Regions from separate parts of the Homo sapiens genome. Here region 1 is linked to region 2. A link means that fine-mapping ties the variant in region 2 to the expression of a gene that starts in the linked region. Tissue or cell type: whole blood. Region 2 holds a variant in brackets; the other region holds the start of a gene. All regions are shown on one strand. Distances are between the middles of the regions. Region 1 holds the start of NCOA1 (nuclear receptor coactivator 1). Region 2 overlaps LOC105374329 (a long non-coding RNA gene).

What was found.
Region 1: NCOA1 starts here. The variant in region 2 is fine-mapped to the expression of NCOA1 in whole blood (TOPMed, PIP above 0.99).

Annotation. Positions count from the first base shown.
Region 1 is chr2:24,487,427-24,495,988 of GRCh38, reverse strand. It overlaps NCOA1 (nuclear receptor coactivator 1), which reads right to left and starts at 4,735. Exons shown (of 23, transcript NM_003743.5): 1 at 4,387-4,735. RefSeq lists silencers at 3,963-4,452, 4,607-4,765, 4,743-5,082.
Region 2 is chr2:24,444,967-24,453,528 of GRCh38, reverse strand. The region is part of intron 2 of LOC105374329 (a long non-coding RNA gene); the gene reads right to left. Among named protein-coding and RNA genes, the nearest start is that of NCOA1, 42 kb to the left of the region's middle. The variant G/A (reference allele first, on the strand shown) is at 4,570.

The DNA of each region.
Region 1 (8,562 bases), 42 kb before region 2:
AAAAATTTGAGAAATTACAAAGAAAAGAATGCGAGAATTTGGTGATGAATTCGCTAATGAAATACCTGTTAGTCATTAATGTCTATGTGCCAATCATATGCTAAACACATTTAATAATTTTAAAGATTACAATATGAGGACAAGTACGTTACTCCAATTTTAAATATAAAAACTGAAGTTTAGTGTGGTTAAACAGCTCAAGGCTACATCAACCTAAGTATCTGGAAGAGCTAGGACACCTCTGTCTGTCTGGTCAGAGTTTCTTTTCTAAAAGATGCTTTAAAATTGCCCCACAATTATAAGCTGAAAGGGCAAAAATGAAGCATCACTCTGGAAAAACTGGATAATCCAGTACAATTAGAATTCTGGTCCTGATAATGGGTGCGTTTTGCTTCCGTGCTTGCACCTATTTTTATGAGTCTGGCCTGTCTGTGCCTAATGGTCAGGTCAGGGCTACTCAGTAAAACCAAACATCCCTGCCCTCCACACACTAAAACATACTCTCGGGGAGTGGTAAGAACAAAATATATCCAAGATGAGGGTGAGTCTTCCATAACTCCTCGAGTGACTAGAGCTTCTATTTTGGCATAAGCTACTTATCTTTTAAATATGATAACCATACTAAGCTTTTCTAAAAGCCTATCACTCCAAGGAGCCTCAAAAATTCTGTGTTGCAGATGGGGTTATGGGGGAAGAAGCATGGATACAACTCACTTTACTTAAACTTATGGAATTGGACTTATATGTTGGTATCAGCGTTTTATAATAATTTCCCTTATTCAGCCATGTATCCTGCAGAAATATATAATAATCATTTCTATACATTAATCCAAATACTATAGCCCACAAACCATTTTCCAGAACTAAGCTATTAAAAAAAAAAAACAAAAAAAAAACACCTTCATCTCCTTATGAAATGAAGCAACCAACATTGGTACCTAGTTGCCACTAGGCCATTTTATGACCTCTGACACCAAATGTTGAAAGGCACAAGGTCTAACTAAAATATAAAGAGAAAAGGAAAGGTTTTAAATGACTAGACCTCATCTTCAATGTTAAGAATAGAACATGAGGCCTATCCTTAGTTGCCAATCACCAACGGCTAAACTACTGCTAATCTGGGAAAGAAGCAATTTTAAAAAGTCCTTTCCTACAGTCTAGTCTTCCCAAATGGGTAGGAAAGTTAATCTAAGATAGGGAGAAATTTATACGGTTCTGCAGCCCAGATCAGATACAGTGTTCTGACATCCACCTCCTGAAACACATGGATTTCACCCGAGCCCACACCGACCACAGCATCCAATATTTGCAAGTAATGCAAAATGGAACCCTCCAAAACATTTTTGGACCTCTGCCAGGAAAGCAGCTGATGGTCCTCTGAGAATTTCTGTTATAATCATATTTAAAAGGCAAAAACCAATGCCAAAACAATCATGAGCGTCCCGGGGATCTCCTATGCTCCATGACTTAGATTTTACTCCGTGTTGTGCGTTGTATTGACCTCCCACACCTGCCCTATAATGAAAACTATGTTAAGCCACATGGCTTAAGGCCAGCCAACTCCATAAGATATGCAACATAACATTCAAACAATGTGGAGTCCTTGGGAGACGCAGCAAAAAAGACAAACTAAAGTACGGAACAGAGGTAGTATCTAAGAGGAGGTATATGAAATTGATGACAACCAAGCAGGGAGAACTAAAACATCCTTGAAAAACAATTATAAATCACAGTCTAGTATACAGATTCCCTATACAGAATTGGGGAAAAGAATTTCAAGAAAATGCCCAATACCCTCTCTCCACCACTCCACCTTTCAGCACCTCTATACCACCCTCATCACTTACTCAACATTTAGTCCTAGTGAAGACCGCTCACTGGATTAGCAGGATCAAGAAGACATGCACAGAACATTCCATTCTGAGAACAACATCTTTAAATTATTTAGGCTTGTTTACCACCCTTCCCTATAGAGTAAAAGCATGAAATGTTGCCAGCACTTTCACAATATACACCAGTTAGCACCATAGCAACCCAATCTTCTGCCCACCAAAAGATTAACACATAAGCAGAAAACAGGAAATTCAACAAAAATTAAAGTTTGACCTTAGACTCCCTCAACAGTTAAATGTCTTAAGTAGTAGCAGTGTCTTTACATCACACCCGCTTCATGCTACCCTTACAGCTTCCTGGCATAAGCAAGTTCTTGGGATTATACAAACTGCTGCTTCTGTTTGCAGCCCAGATTTCTAGAAATGAAACCCTGGAATTGAGGGAGAAACAAAAACAAATGTTCGCAGAAAGAGGCAGGAAGAAGCATTGTCTATATAATCCTAGTTTAAGTGAAACAATCACCATTAGCTCCATCAAGCACTTTTTTTTTTTTTCCAATAAAACCACTGCAGATCTAAAATACTCTCTTGGTTTAAACCACACAAAAAGCAATTTAATAGGCACAATCCTACAGGTTTTCTGAGAGAAATAAGGAAGAGATCAAGTGTAAGCTACGTAAAATTCACGTTTTGCACCTTATAAAGCAAACTTCAATGTTGTTAAATAACCAGTAGAAAATATCTACAAAAATCAAACTAAACACCTGTTCTTATAAGCAGCAGTCCTCTATTTTCTCTCTAAACCATATATTCCCAACTCAGACCCTCTCTGTGACCCACTGTTCCCAAAGCATAGAGTCTGAAGAAGAAATATAAAACATTTCGGACATTCGTTCACAAAACCAAATTAGACCTTTCCACAAAGTACAGGAGATAAAACAGAAACACTTCCATTTTATCTAATTTATGGCAAATAGTTCAAGGAATGCCTATTTGTTAAGCTGAATCAAACCCCACTGCTACCTTTAACCCAAAACTATTTCTAGTTGAAGATCCAAGAGACCTAAGCAAATACTTTCTTTTCACATTATTCTCAACATGAAGAAATCCGACCCCCTTCCTACAACATCATAGGAGGCCCCTCTGGCCAACTTTCGTTGTTATTGTTGTTGTTTTGTTTGCTTTTTTTTTGAGACTAGCCTCCAACCAATTCCAGAAGAGGAGACAAACCTCAAACAAATTTAACCCTTGAGATCCATCCCTCAACTGTATCATATAATCTACGCTTCACGGCAGTAATGTTTTAAGCAGACACTTGATTTCTTAATCACTGAAATGTAAGCACCAGCCCTCACAAATCATCGCCACAGAGATTCCTCTTGGCATCCACAGAGGGTGCTGGGACTGCAATTCACTCAAGAACCCTTTACTCACCAACATCACACTCGACATTAAAAACTCACCGTCTCCGAAGAAAAAATGTCACCTTCTGCACAAGGACACCTGCCTGTTCAACACCTCTACAAGAAACGAGGAGGGCCAAGCATGAGAGGCTAACAGATCCTCCAGCTTAAAGTTTTCCTCCCCATGAAACTCTCCGGACACAACACCGTGGCCTGTCCTTGTCACACACACACAGGCTGTATTGTCAACCCCTCCGTCTCCCTCTAACGTCGTCAGACTGGGCAGTGTCTACCCATGGGGGTAACTGCTTTTAAATAAAATAAAAAAGCAGCCACCACAGCTGGGTAGTAAGGACTGGAGACCCTGGGTGTCCGATTTTTTCAGGTCTTTTACAAGGGACTAGAGAGCGGCCCGAATTCTGTCACTGCCCACTAACCAACCCCACCTCCCAATCGCCTCGTCAACATGTTTGCTTCCCTTCCTCGGCCCTTTCGGCTGAATCCCAGGAAGGGGACCAAACCCGGGCCGCGACAGGAACATGTCCAGTATCCATCCCATGTCTACCTCCGAAACCCCTTCTCGGGAGAAGGGGCGAGCAAGCGCGCCGGGGTCAAACCCAAGCGCCGTCGAGGGCTGCGCCGACGGAGAGGGACGCCGCGGTCGCCCCCATTTCGCGGTCCCGGCAGGCGAGATTCCGAGAGGTGAGCGGGCCGGCCAAGGTCACGGCGTCGTCGGGGCCGAGGGGCGCCCGCGCCGACTTCCGGCTCCCCCTCTCGGCGGCGGCCCGGGGCGCCCGCTCCCCACGCCGGGCAGGCGGCCGCGCAGCTCGCACCCCCTCCGCGGATGCTCGCCCTCTCCGCGCTAACTAGGGCAACTGGAAAAGAGGCGGAGAGAAGTCGCTGCTGCAGCGATTTCCCCCGGCGGGGAGCAGCCCCCAGCTGGTGCCCGTGACAGCTGCGACCTCCGCCCCCTCCAGCCGCGCCGGGCCGCGAGGGGAACTCGGGGAAGTGGGAGGAGGATGGAGCGGGAGAAAGGAGAGCAGGGGGCGGAGGGGCGCCAGCTGCTCCCCGCCCCCTAGGGCCTCCGCGGCCGCGCGGCTCGTGACAGCTGCACCCACCGGGAGGCTCCGCACCCGCAGCCCGCCACTCACCTGCCGCCGCCGCCTCTGGGCCCCGCTCACCGGCGCCGCACTCGTCCGCGACCGTGGCGGCGGCGCCGCCCCGGCCTCCGCCGCTCCTCGGGCCCGGCGCCGCGGCTCTCCGGCCCCCTCCTCCGGAGCAGGGGTCCCCCCGCAGGGGGATGCAGAGGGAACCTGACGCAGGCTCCGCTCGAGGGAGCAGCAGCGAACAGGCGGCGGAGGCCCTCAAGGCCGCGAGGCAGCCGTCGGAGGACAGAGCTCAGCAAATCGCGTCAGACTCCCGCTCGCCCGGCCTGAAGAACAGGCATTTCAGCCGCTCTCCGCGGCCGCCATGTTCTCCTCCTCGGCCGCCACCGCCGCCGCCGCCACCGCCCCCCGCTCGCGGCACCGCCCCCTTCGCGCCCCGCCCCGCCCCGCCCGTTCCCGGCCGCCCGCCTGCCCGCCCGCCGCACTTCCCCTGCCGGCTCCGGCCGCCCGGGCCGCCGCGACCCGGTGCCCGCGAGCTCCGACAGTGCGCCCGGGACAGCGCGCCCCCAGCCCGCCGGGCCTGCCGGGCCCGCCGAGCGAGGAACCGCCCCGCGCCCTCTGCCGGCCCGCCCCAGCCGGCGTCCTAACGAAGTGTGGGAAAGGAGGCCCGAACTCTTCCCCGCCCGTCTCAACTCCTCCCCGCCCCTCTCCTGCCCTCCCCTCGGGGCGTTCCTCCCACTGCTGCCGGGAAGCGGCCTCGAACACCAGGGCGCTCGCAGCTAGGCCGCCGGGCCTGCCGCCTCCCGCTGTTCTTTATCTTTCTGGGAAGGTGTCGGAGCGGCGAGAGGCCCTGCGGACGGGGCGGAGTCGGCTCCGGGCCTGTCCCTCCACTCGGGCGTTCTGTTACTTTGAGCGAGACATATCCCGCGGGCCTCGTTTTTTATTCTGTAAAATTGGGAGGTGGTTGCCTAGATGATTTCACAGGCTATTAGACAAGAGAAAAGGAAGATCGTCTGCCCCCTTCGTTTTACAGATGAAAAGATCTGCCTGACCCGTTCTGGCTCTGCAATTCCATGAATTATCTAAAATGTCTGTCATTCACAGATCTTTCCCCTCAAGGGGCCCACACCTTTCTTCTTATCTCCCTTTTCTTTTTTTTTTTTTTTTAACTTCTCTAATAGAAGTGCTACTTCCAAAAGTAGAGTGTTCTTGTCACCAGAGGAATCGAACAGCGGCTGAACAGCCTCTCTGAGCTGCGATGGCCTTATCTGGACCGCATCCCGCATTCCAAAGGCTGGCAATGCAATATATACCTATGTCTCTCCCTGGGTTGTCCTAAGCATGAATGAGTCACTCGCCGTGGAAGTGCCTTGTAAAGCATACATCTGTCCATTCCTTTCTTTTATTCTTACCCCATTTCGCACTCTTACCCTTCCTCAATCCTGTCCTGCTGCTGCTGTCTCCCGGCGTTTCCTGCTGTTTCGCTTCCTGTGTGTTCTCCCCTAAATCAATCTCTGTAAATCCTTAAGCCCTTCCCACCCTTCTCCCAACTGGGGAACCTGACAGCCTTGAAAACACCAATCTCCGTGGCAGCTCTCTGAGTCGACGGGCAGCTTCTTTCACAGGCAGGTACTACTGTATGCTTTCACCATCCTCTTCCTATCCTTGTCACGCTCATAAAGTAATCGCTAGACCACACCCCCACATGCATTCATATATTCATTCATTTATATATTCATTCCCCTGATTCTTATCGGAGACCTACTACTGGGGCCCTAGGTGCATCTCCTGAGCTCTGGCTTAGCAGTACCTCTAGCCACCCGCAGAGTCCCTATCCCCAATAATAGCTGAAAATACCCGGGCACTCATGAGTTTCGTCCCCTAATGTAGGGCCTACTTCCCAATCTAGTCCAATGCAGACTGTGTGAAAGTGCCTTGTTCTAGCCTCTGGTGCCAACAAATGAGCCACTTGTGCAAGGTACTCCTGTCTCCACTAGACTCTAGTAAGTGCTGAAGGCCAAATCTAGTGGCCACTTCAGTCCTACTGTCGTGTGGCCTTTCTACAGCACGTGATACTGCTAACTCCTCCTTTTTGAAACTCTCCTCCCTTGTCTTCAATATGAGTCTCTCTACCTGATTTCTGAACTTGCCTTCGTTTGCACTTTTCTTGGGCTGCTCCTTTTTTACGGGGCCATAAAAAATGTTGGTATCCTCAAGGTTTTATTTTTTTCCTTCCTTTCCTCTGGCTTCGGTTGACTGTTTATTTCCACAGCTTCAACTGTTAACAAAACAACTCCTGAATTTCCTTCTTCCAATCTCCCACTCTGCAGCCCGGGGTCGTAATTAACTTTAAAATATCCTCAAGACACACAGTGCTAAGATTTTGTTGAATGACAAATTATTTAGGTGTTAATTTATATTGCCATAACCATCCATGTATGCTAAAGAGAGAGTTCTTTTCTAGAATGGTACTGTTTCTTTTTTGTTGTTGTTGAAACAGAGTCTCGCTCTTGTCGCCCAGGCTGGAGTGCAGTGGCGCGATCTCAGCTCACTGCAGCCTCTGCCTCCTGGGTTCAAGTGATTCTCCTGCCTCAGCCTCCCGAGTAGCTGGGATTACAGGCACCCGCCACCACGCCCGGCTAATTTTTTGTATTTTTAGTAGAGACAGGGTTTCGCCGTGTTGGCCAGGCTGGTCTTGAACTCCTGACCTCAGGTTATCCACCAGCCTCGGCCTCCCAAAGTGCTGGGATTACAGTCATGAGCCACTGCGCCTGGTAATGTTTCTTAAATAATAACTCTTTGACTTTTTTCTCCTTCCTCTACAAGTCATAATCACTTGTCAAAGCAGTTATAACACCCTTTTATGTCTCCAATTGGTAATCTTTTCTCTGGTCATACTCAACTTCTCTCAGACTCCATCTACTTTTACTAAACAGGCCCATTTTACTAATCCACCCGAGCAACCCTAAATATAGGGCCAAAAGATTCATTAGATTTACTTCGTGACTGTACAAGTAGCCTCTCTAAAATCCATTTACCTTAGCTATTTAAAATTTATTTACTCCCAAAATACAATGCCAATCAACAAGGAAGACTAACTCCAATTAAATGAAAATGCTTTGAAGATATTTATAAATAAAAATGTAAGACAACATTTAACTCTTATAGCCCAGATAGAACTGGTTTTAGTCCAAACCCTATTGTTTCCATAAATTAATATAATCCTTTGGTGGACTAGAAACAGCCTAGTTCTACGGGCAAAATCTAGAACATACCTGTTGGATTTTCTCCAGAGCATAATAGATTTCCAGTTCTATAAAATATATGGCTAGTGTGCATGAAATTACTCCAGTTACTGAGGCAAGAATTGATTTAACTTTGACATTCTTTTTTTCAAATAGTTTTTTGTTTTATAATAATTGATACAGACTCACAAAATATTCAGTCAATAAAGAACAGCACAAAAAGTTTAAAAATAAACTTTTTCAAGCCAGAGAGAAACATAGTAAACATGTTTCCACACCTTTCTCTATATATATTTGCACATATAAATACACTATATGTAGTCAATTTTACATAAAAATAAAATCACGCCTGTAATCCCAGCACTTTGGGAGGCCGAGACAGGCGAATCACCTGAGGTCAGGAGTTCAAGACCAGCCTGGCCAACATTGTGAAACTCTGTCTCTACTCAGTGTGGTGGTGGGTGCCTGTAATCCCAGCTACTCAGGAGGCTGAGGCAGGAGAATCATTTGAACCCAGGAGGCAGAAGCTGCAGTGAGCCAAGATCGCCTCACTGCACTCCAGCCTGGGCAACAGAGTGAGACTCCATCTCAAAAAAATAAAATAAATAAAATAAAATCACATGATAAATGCTCATCAGTAATCTGGTGCCTTTTACTGTACAATGTATTTTCATCCTAATAGTTAAATACTCTTGCATTGTGTATCTGTTTAGCCATTTAATTCCTTACTAAAAATGTTTACATTGTCTGTATTTTTGTTTGTATATTTTTGTAAATCATGCTGTAATTCTAATGCATGCCTCCGTGCAGTTTAGAAATTATTTTCTTTAAATTTCTAGAAGATTAATTGTTGGCTCAAAGGGTACATGTTAATTTTTTTACTACATTATTTACCAAACTGGCCTCCAGAAAATTGTTTCAATCTGTGGTCCTAGCCATAGTGCATGAGCCTGCCACTTGCCCATAACCAGCTCTG
Region 2 (8,562 bases):
CATTTCATTTATTTTCGTTGTATGTGTTATAATAATACAAGAAACCACTCATAACCCCACCTCTCAACCCAAAAGCCAAAAACTCTCCATGACATACATCGACCTACCTGTTCCATCCCATACCAGACCCCAACATTCTTCTCAGTAGTAACTATTCTTTTAAATTTTGTTTTTATCATACATTGCTCTTCTTTAAATTTCATTGCACATTTGCGTGGGCCTAAACAGTATACTAGTTTTATTTGTTTTGAATGTATTATATGTTGTCTTCTAGGACTTGTTCTTTTAGCTCAATACTATATTGCTAAGGTTGATCAATAATGTTGAGATCATACTCTATTCATTTTCACCATTGTGTAACACTCAATAGCAGGACTGTACCACAATTTATTTAACCATGTTTATCAGTGGTTTAATAAATTGTTGCTATTACAAATGGATTGTGCCATGAACATTTTTTTATGTGTGTTCTGGTAAACATATGCTAATGTTTTCATTGAACTAGAGATATGCAAGATTTAACAATCTTAAAACTGCATAAGAATTAAAGCTTGACAGTTCACTTACAGAAATTATGTTAAGCGTGTCTGGGGAAGAGCATATAATACAAATTCTTCACTACTGAAGCAAAGGAAAATATGAATTATACACTAATTTCACACCAGTTAGGATTTGATTTGTCTATAACATAAAACCCAAATTAATCATTCCTTAAACGTATATGTTGCCCTCATGTAAAACATCTGGAGATGAGAAGTCTAAGGCCAGTTTGGCAAGGTCTGCGGAATTGTCATGAACCCAGGCCTCTTCCAGCTTTTCAGTTTGCCATCCCTAGGGTGTGACTTTTATTCTTCTGGTCCAAAAGGGTTGCTCAACTTCTAGTCATTAAATCTGCCTCCTCATCAGCAAGAAGGAGAAAAGGAAGGAAGGAGAGTGCATCTTCCATTCAAGGACACTTTCCCCAAATTGCACGTGACATTTCTAATTGCATCCTATTAACTAGAAGGGGGACACACGGCTCTTGCTAGTTTCAAGGGAGGCTGGAAAATGTAGTCTTTATTCTGGTCATCTTGTATTCAGCTAAAAGTTAAGGGTCCTATTACCTAAACGAATGGGAAAATAGACTTTGAAAACAGTTAATAGTCTCGGAGAATTATTACAGCTAAAGTGAAAGCAGAAAAGAAACCAACCCATCAAGGCCTTATTTTGAGAAGTAGAAAGAAAAACTAAACACCGATAACATCACCACCCAGTGATGACCACGGTTAACTTGTTGAGATGTATTTTTCCAGACTTTTTCATCCATATAAAAAACTACATATATGTCTCCAGTATAGCCATAATAATACCTATATCTATACCAATATATTCACATGTATTAGTCTGTTTTCAAGCTGCTAATAAAGACATACCTGAGACTGGGTAATTTATACAGGAAAGAGGTTTAATGGACTTACAGTTCTACATGGCTGGGGATGCCTCACAATTATGGCAGAAGGCAAGGAGGAGCAAGTCAACGTCTTACATGGATGGCAGCAGGCAAATAGAGAGTTTCTACAGGGAAACTCCCATTTTTAAAACCATCAGATCTCATGAGACTTATTCACTGTCCTGGGAACAGCAGGGAAAAGACTTGCCCCCATGATTCAATTATCTCCCACCAGGTTCCTCCCACAACACGTGGGAATTCAAGATGAGATCTGGGCGGGGGACACAGCCAAACCATATCACCACACATTACTTTTAAAGGGAAAATTTAAATTAGTGCCATCAGTCAAAGGGAAAGATAGCTGGGTTGTTTTCCTCCCTCCTTAAATTCTTAATAAACTTCATGGGAAATGCAACATTGGAGCAACTAGAGAAAAGAGGAGAATGTGGTCCATAATTGAATGCTGATATTTCTCAGGGGTGCCAAATGCAAAATATTAATAACTTTAACTGCATACAGGATGCTCTGGAATAAAGATTTAGAGGTGAATTTAAAATAAAATAATTAGTCATCCCAGAAAACCACAGGCATGTCTTCAGTGGGGATGGTAGAAAACTTTGTGGACAGAAAAATTAATGGACACAAGAACTTTGGGGAAAGCCAGACTAATGGAGTTTTCTAGATCATAGGTTAAAAAGAGTTACAAGTATCAATAACTATTTACCCTGAAGCACACCTTACCAGATGAGCACATGCTAGGCTCTCTGTTCTCTGTTTAAAAGTCTCCTAGATAGTGAACCAACATGGCATATGACCTTTTGTTAAGAAAAAGGACTATTATACAGAGCTGCAAATTCACCCAACAAACACTTACTAGGACTTACTACATGTCAGGTACTTGAGTACAAAAAAAGAACATACCATGGTCCACATCTTCATGGAGACTGTAGTACAGTAAGGCAGACAAGCACCTATAAAGATGAATTGGCTGGGTACAGTGGCTCATGCCTGTAAATCTAGCACTTTGGGAGGCTGAGGTGGGTTGATTTCTTGAACCCAGGAGTTGGAGACCAGCCTGCGCAACGTGATGAAACCCCATCTCTTAAAAAAAAAAAGATGAATTGAAGTTTACTATGTGTCAGACACTGTACTAAGCACTTTACATGCATTGTCTGATTTAGCATTTATGACTATCTATTCTTACCCTCATTTGACAGATCAAGAAAATGAAGCTTATAGGTCAGGTAATTTGATTGAGGTCACAAAGCTAGTAAGTGGCAGAGCTAAGAATCTATGTCACATCTGTCTGACTTTAGAGTCACCACTCTGGGCCACTGAGCTAAACTGTCTTACAGCCCAAGTAGGCAGTGCTATAATAGAAGTTGGTACAAAATTCTGAAGGAACACAGAAAAAGCATCAAATATCTGCCAGGGGAACATTTATACAGTAGTGTCTTAGCCTGTTCAAGAAGCTATAACAAAATACTATACACTGAGTGGCTTATAAATAACAGAAATTTATTGCTCACAATTCTGGAGGCTGAAAGTCCAGGATCAAGGTGCTAGCAGATTTTACATCTGATGAGAACCCACTTTCTCATAGAAAGGCCATCTTGTCATTGTAACCTCACATGGCAGAAGGGGTGGGGATCTCTCTGAAACCTTTTTCATAACGGCATTAATTCCATTCAGGAGCATTCTGCCCTCATGACCTAATCACCTCTCAAAGGCCCCATCTCTAAATACCCTCACATTGGGTATTAGTTTCAAAATATGAATTCTGGGATGGGGGGGTGCACATAAACATTCAAAGCACACAAAGTAGCATAAAGATAAGAAAATATGAAGTCTAAATATAATGTCAGTAAGTGTTAAAATAAAGATCAATGTGAGCATTAATAAATGAATGGAAAATATGAGATTTCTTCCATAGAGCCCATTAAACCTGAATTTTATAGGTAGCTTTTCTTACTGTTTTTGGCTACACAGTTCGATTCTATATCATCTAATGCCTTTATCCTGTTTTAGTAGTTATTCATCTATTATTGACACCTTCATTTTTTTATCAAGCTATTTTCTCTCTTTTTTTTTTTTTTTGAGATGAGATCTCATTCTGCCACCCAAACTTGACTGCAGTGGCACAATCTTGGTTCATTACATCCTTGACCTCATAGACTCAAGTGATCCTCCTGCCTCAGCCTCCCAAGTGATCCTCCTGCCTCAGCCTCCCGAGTAGCTGGGACTACAGGCATGCCACCACACCCAGCTAATTTCCTTTTTTGGTATTTTTGGTAGAGACAGGGCTTTGTTATGTTGCCTAAGCTGGTCTTGAACTCATGGGCTCAAACAATCTGCTCACCTTGCCCTCCCAAAGTGCTGGGATTACAGGCATGAGGCACCATGCCCAGCCTCAAGCTGTTTTCTCCATATACACTGCCTCTACATAATTATCAGCTCATAGTCAGCAAAATGAACCATGTGTGATCCCTTTTAAAAAATCACTGACTAGGGTATATTCTAGCATACTTGGCACTTAGTACATGCTTGAGTTGAAGTGATAACCATTTATTTAAAATTGATTCAGAGTAATGTATATCAGAGATCAGCAGAGAAGATCCAACATATGGAAAATTGGAGTTTATAAAGACTGAAAACAAAACATTAAAACAGAATATTTAAAATTATAATTACCTAATAAAAATGTCTAGAAATAAAAGAATACCCGAATCTACCCATTGAAAGGAAGATACAGAGTTGAGTATGAAGACTAGGCAAGGGCCAGATCATGTAGATCCTTGTAGGCCACTGTGAGAAATTTAAACTTCAATCTGAACGCAATAAAAGTCCTTTGGAGGACTTCAATCAGAAGCACCAGCCTGGGCAATAGGGTGAGACCCCCAATCTCTAAAAATTAAAAATAAAAAAAATAGCCAGGCACGGTGTGTTGTCCTGTAGTCCCAGTTACTAGGGAAGATGAGGCAGGAGGATTGCTTGAGCCCAGTAGTTCAAGGTGAGGCTGCCTGGGTGACAGGGATTTTCTCTCTTAAAGGAAAAAAAGGAAGCACCATTGTTTACACAAAATAGGGAAGTAGAAATGTGTGTGGACTTGAAAAAAAACTAAATATGGGAATGAAGAAATG[G/A]TTTTATTTCACAACACAAGGCCTTTCCACTTCCACTTTAATGATGGCAATAGAGAATTGCACACATTCCTTCCATTTATCAAAATTTTCCCCATAAAGAGACTAACTTTATGCAAACTTTTTGGCATGAAAATGCTGGGCACTAAGAACAGCAAGCAATTTGTGGATTAAAGATATAAAATTAGCACTAGAATTGTTGAGATAAGCCTGGTTTATCCTGGCCAGATGATAAGCATGGGAAGTGGCTGGGTAATCAGAAACTAGTTGTCAAGTTAGAACAAGAGCTCCAAAATTATAACTCAGGATTGAGGACGAGACAGTGTGAGGAGGAAAATTCAGAAAACAAAGCTCAGGAGAAGGCCAGAACACTTTACACGGAGCATATCCTGGGAAATCAAAGGAAAAAAATGTCTATTAAAGGGAAGGGTGGTAGAAATGAGATTAGAGAAAAAAAAAATCAGAAAGATCAAAGAAAATCTGGTGCTTTCCATCCAAATCTGTACCTTAATGGATAGAGAAATATTAGGGGCTTCTCTGTCAAAGATTTCATTTTAACTTCACTGTTTATCTTATTTATTTATTTTTTTTTAATTCTTAAGTTTTCACCCTCTGTACTCAAATTATATGTAATTTTCGATTAAAACACTTACATGGATTGTTTTGGTTTTGACAACATGGAATATTAAGCTAATGTGAACTAACTCTCACTACAAATATACTAAAATGCTTTATAAAATAATACAAAAATTTAATTACATAGTCAAGACTGAGAGAAAGAAAGGAAAAAAGAAAAAAAAAAAAAGGAAACCACAAATCCCAAAAACAAAGAGTGATCCATATTAGTGCAGTAAATCCAATTATGCTGTAGTAAACTGGAAAAGTGGATATTTTTTGTGCCTTGAAGCTACAGAAATCCCCAAACTGGTCCAGGATCCATAAAATTTCTTAAGTCCTAGCAAGAGAAAATGTAAAACATCAAAGCAGAGTGACACTCACAGTTCAGGGCACTAAGATGAAGGAAAAAGAACACCTTCTTCAAAAGTTCACAAAATATAAAAGAGATGAATCAATGAACCAGCACGAGGGAGAGCTCATATGTACAACAATGGGAAGAATTTGTATCCTAAGAACTAGCTATCACAGCAAATCGGAAGGAGACTACTTACTACACTAAATATCTATTTAGGTTACAGTTATTAAGGAGTTGACATCAAATTTTAAAACTTCTACTCTGTAACTTCTGTGAGGATGATGAAAAGATAAGGCACGGACTGGGAGAAAATATTTGCAAACCACATATCCAACAAAGGACTTGTATCTAGAACATGTAGGAACTCTCAAAACAGTAAAAAAATAAAATGAAATAAAATAAAAATCTAATTTTAAAATGGGCAAAAGATATGCCCATATATTTCATTTGAAAATAAATACAGGGCTGGGTGCACTGGCTCACGCCTGTAATCCCAGCACTTTGGGAGGCCAAGGTGGGTGGATCACCTGAGGTCAGGAGCTCAAGACCAGCCTGGCCAAAGTGGTGAAACCCTGTCTCTACTAAAAATACAAAAATTAGCTGGGCATGTGGGTGCGCACCTGTAGTCCCAGCTACTTGGGAGGCTGAGGTGGGAGAATCACTTGAACCCAGGAGGCAGAGGTTGCAGTGAGCTAAGATGGCGCCACTGCACTCCAGCCTGGATGACAGAGTGAGACTCCGTCTCTAAATAAATAAATAAATGGAGTAAACTATCAATACATAGAACTTGAATGGATCGCTAGGGAATTATGCTGACTGAAAAAAGCCAATCTCCATAGGTTATATGCTGTATTATTCTACTCATAAAACATTCTTGAAATAACAAAATCGTAGAAGTAGAGAACAGATTAGTGGTTGCCAAGGGTTGGGGATAAGGCAGAAGCATGAGGCAAGTGCTGGTGGTTCTAAAGAGGCAGCATGCTGCAGCCTCGTGGTGATAGAACAGTTCTGTAACTTGATTGTGGTGGTGGTTACACAAAAATATACATGTGGTCGGGCTTGGTGGCTCACCTTTGGGAGGTAGAGGTGGGTCTTGAGCCCAGGAGTTCGAGACTAGCCAGGGCAACATGGCGAAACCCTGTCTCTACAAAAAGTACAAAATAATTAGCCAGGTGTGGTGGCATGCACCTGTAGTCCTAGCTACTCAGGAGGCTAAGGCAGGAGGATTGCTTGAACTGGGGAGGTCGAGGGTACAGTGAACCATGATCATGCCACAGCATTCCATCCTGGGTGACAGAGCGAGACCCTGTCTCAAAAAAAATTTTAAAACTCCAAAGATTTATTTATTTAGAGACGGAATCTCACTCTGTCGCCCAGGCTGGAGTGCAGCGGCGCCATCTCAGCTCACATGCAATAAAATTTCTTAAAACTGCACACACACACACACACACACACACACACAAACATGCCTATAATCCCAGTGCTTTGGGAGGCCAAGGGGGGTGGATCATGAGGTCAGGAGATCGAGAGCATCCTGGCTAATACACCACCATCCTGGCTAATACATCCTGGTGATACACCGCCTCTACTAAAAATACAAAAAATTAGCTGGTGTGGCGGCAGGCGCCTGTAGTCCCAGCTACTCAGGAGGCTGAGGAAGGAGAATCACTTAAACCTGGGAGGCAGAGGTTGCAGTGAGCCGAGATCACGCCACTGTACTCCAGCCTGGGGGACACAGCGAGACTCTGTCTCAAAAAAAAAAAATTGGTGAAGTATGAATTAAATAAATGATTAAAGATAAGTAAGGAAAAAAGAAACCATACTGAAAAAACCTAGGCAGATTTTTAAAATACAGATATAACTTTAAGGAATAAAAACAACTATCACTGAAATGAAAAGCTTAAACAAGTTAAGCAGCAGGTTAGACATAGCTGAAGAGAGATTTCTTAACTGAAAAACAGATTTGAATAAATCACAGAGAATGCAGTACAGAGGGATTAAAGAGAATGGTAAATGTATGAGAAAAGTTAAGAGACACAGAGGACGTAATTAGAAAATACTATATACTTCTAATAGGAGTTCCTGAAGGAGAAGACAGACGGCTAGGCAATGTTTAAAGAAATAATAGATCAAATGTTTCCATACTTATAAAAAAGATCTAAGTCCTTACATTGAAGGAACAAGCTGAAAAAAACACACACACGAATGATGGTAAAACTACAGAATATCAGAGATAAAGTCTTAAAAGCAACCAGAGACAAGACATATGACTACAAAATAATAACTATTAGACTGACAGCAGATTTCTAATCAGCAGCAACAGCATCTTAAAGACTTGATTAGGCCAGGTGCGGTGGCTCACCCCTGTAATCCCAGCACTTTGGGAGGCCGAGGCGGGCGGATCACGAGGTCAGGAGATCGAGACCATCCTGGTTAACACAGTGAAACGCTGTCTCTACTAAAAATACAAAAAATTAGCCAGGCATGGTGGCAGGCGCCCACAGTCCCAGCTACTCAGGAGGCTGAGGCAGGAGAATGGCGTGAACCCGGGAGGCGGAGGTTGCAGTGAGCCAAGATCACGCCACTGCACTCCAGCCTGGACTACAGAGCCAGACTCCATCTCAAAAAAAAAAAAAAAAGACTTGATTAATATCTTCAAAGAACTAAGAGAATATAACTATTTAAGCTAAAATCATATTCATAACTAAAGTATCCTTTAAAATAAGGCTAAAATGAGAATACTTTCAGAGAAATAAAAAAAGTTTATTATTCACAGGGTATCACTGGAGATCTATGAAAATCTATGAAAATTGTTTCTTCCTGGAGTACCTGAAGAAAGAAATTGTAACAAAAATGATGACGTGAGATGCAAAAAAAAGTTAAGATAAATCGGTAAACATGTAAATTAAATCTATACAAATATTGTAAGAACTATAGTAATAATATTGAAAACCAATGTGGGGTTAGAAATAATTGAAATTATAGAAACAACAGAAATTATTGATTGGTAAGTAAAATACCAA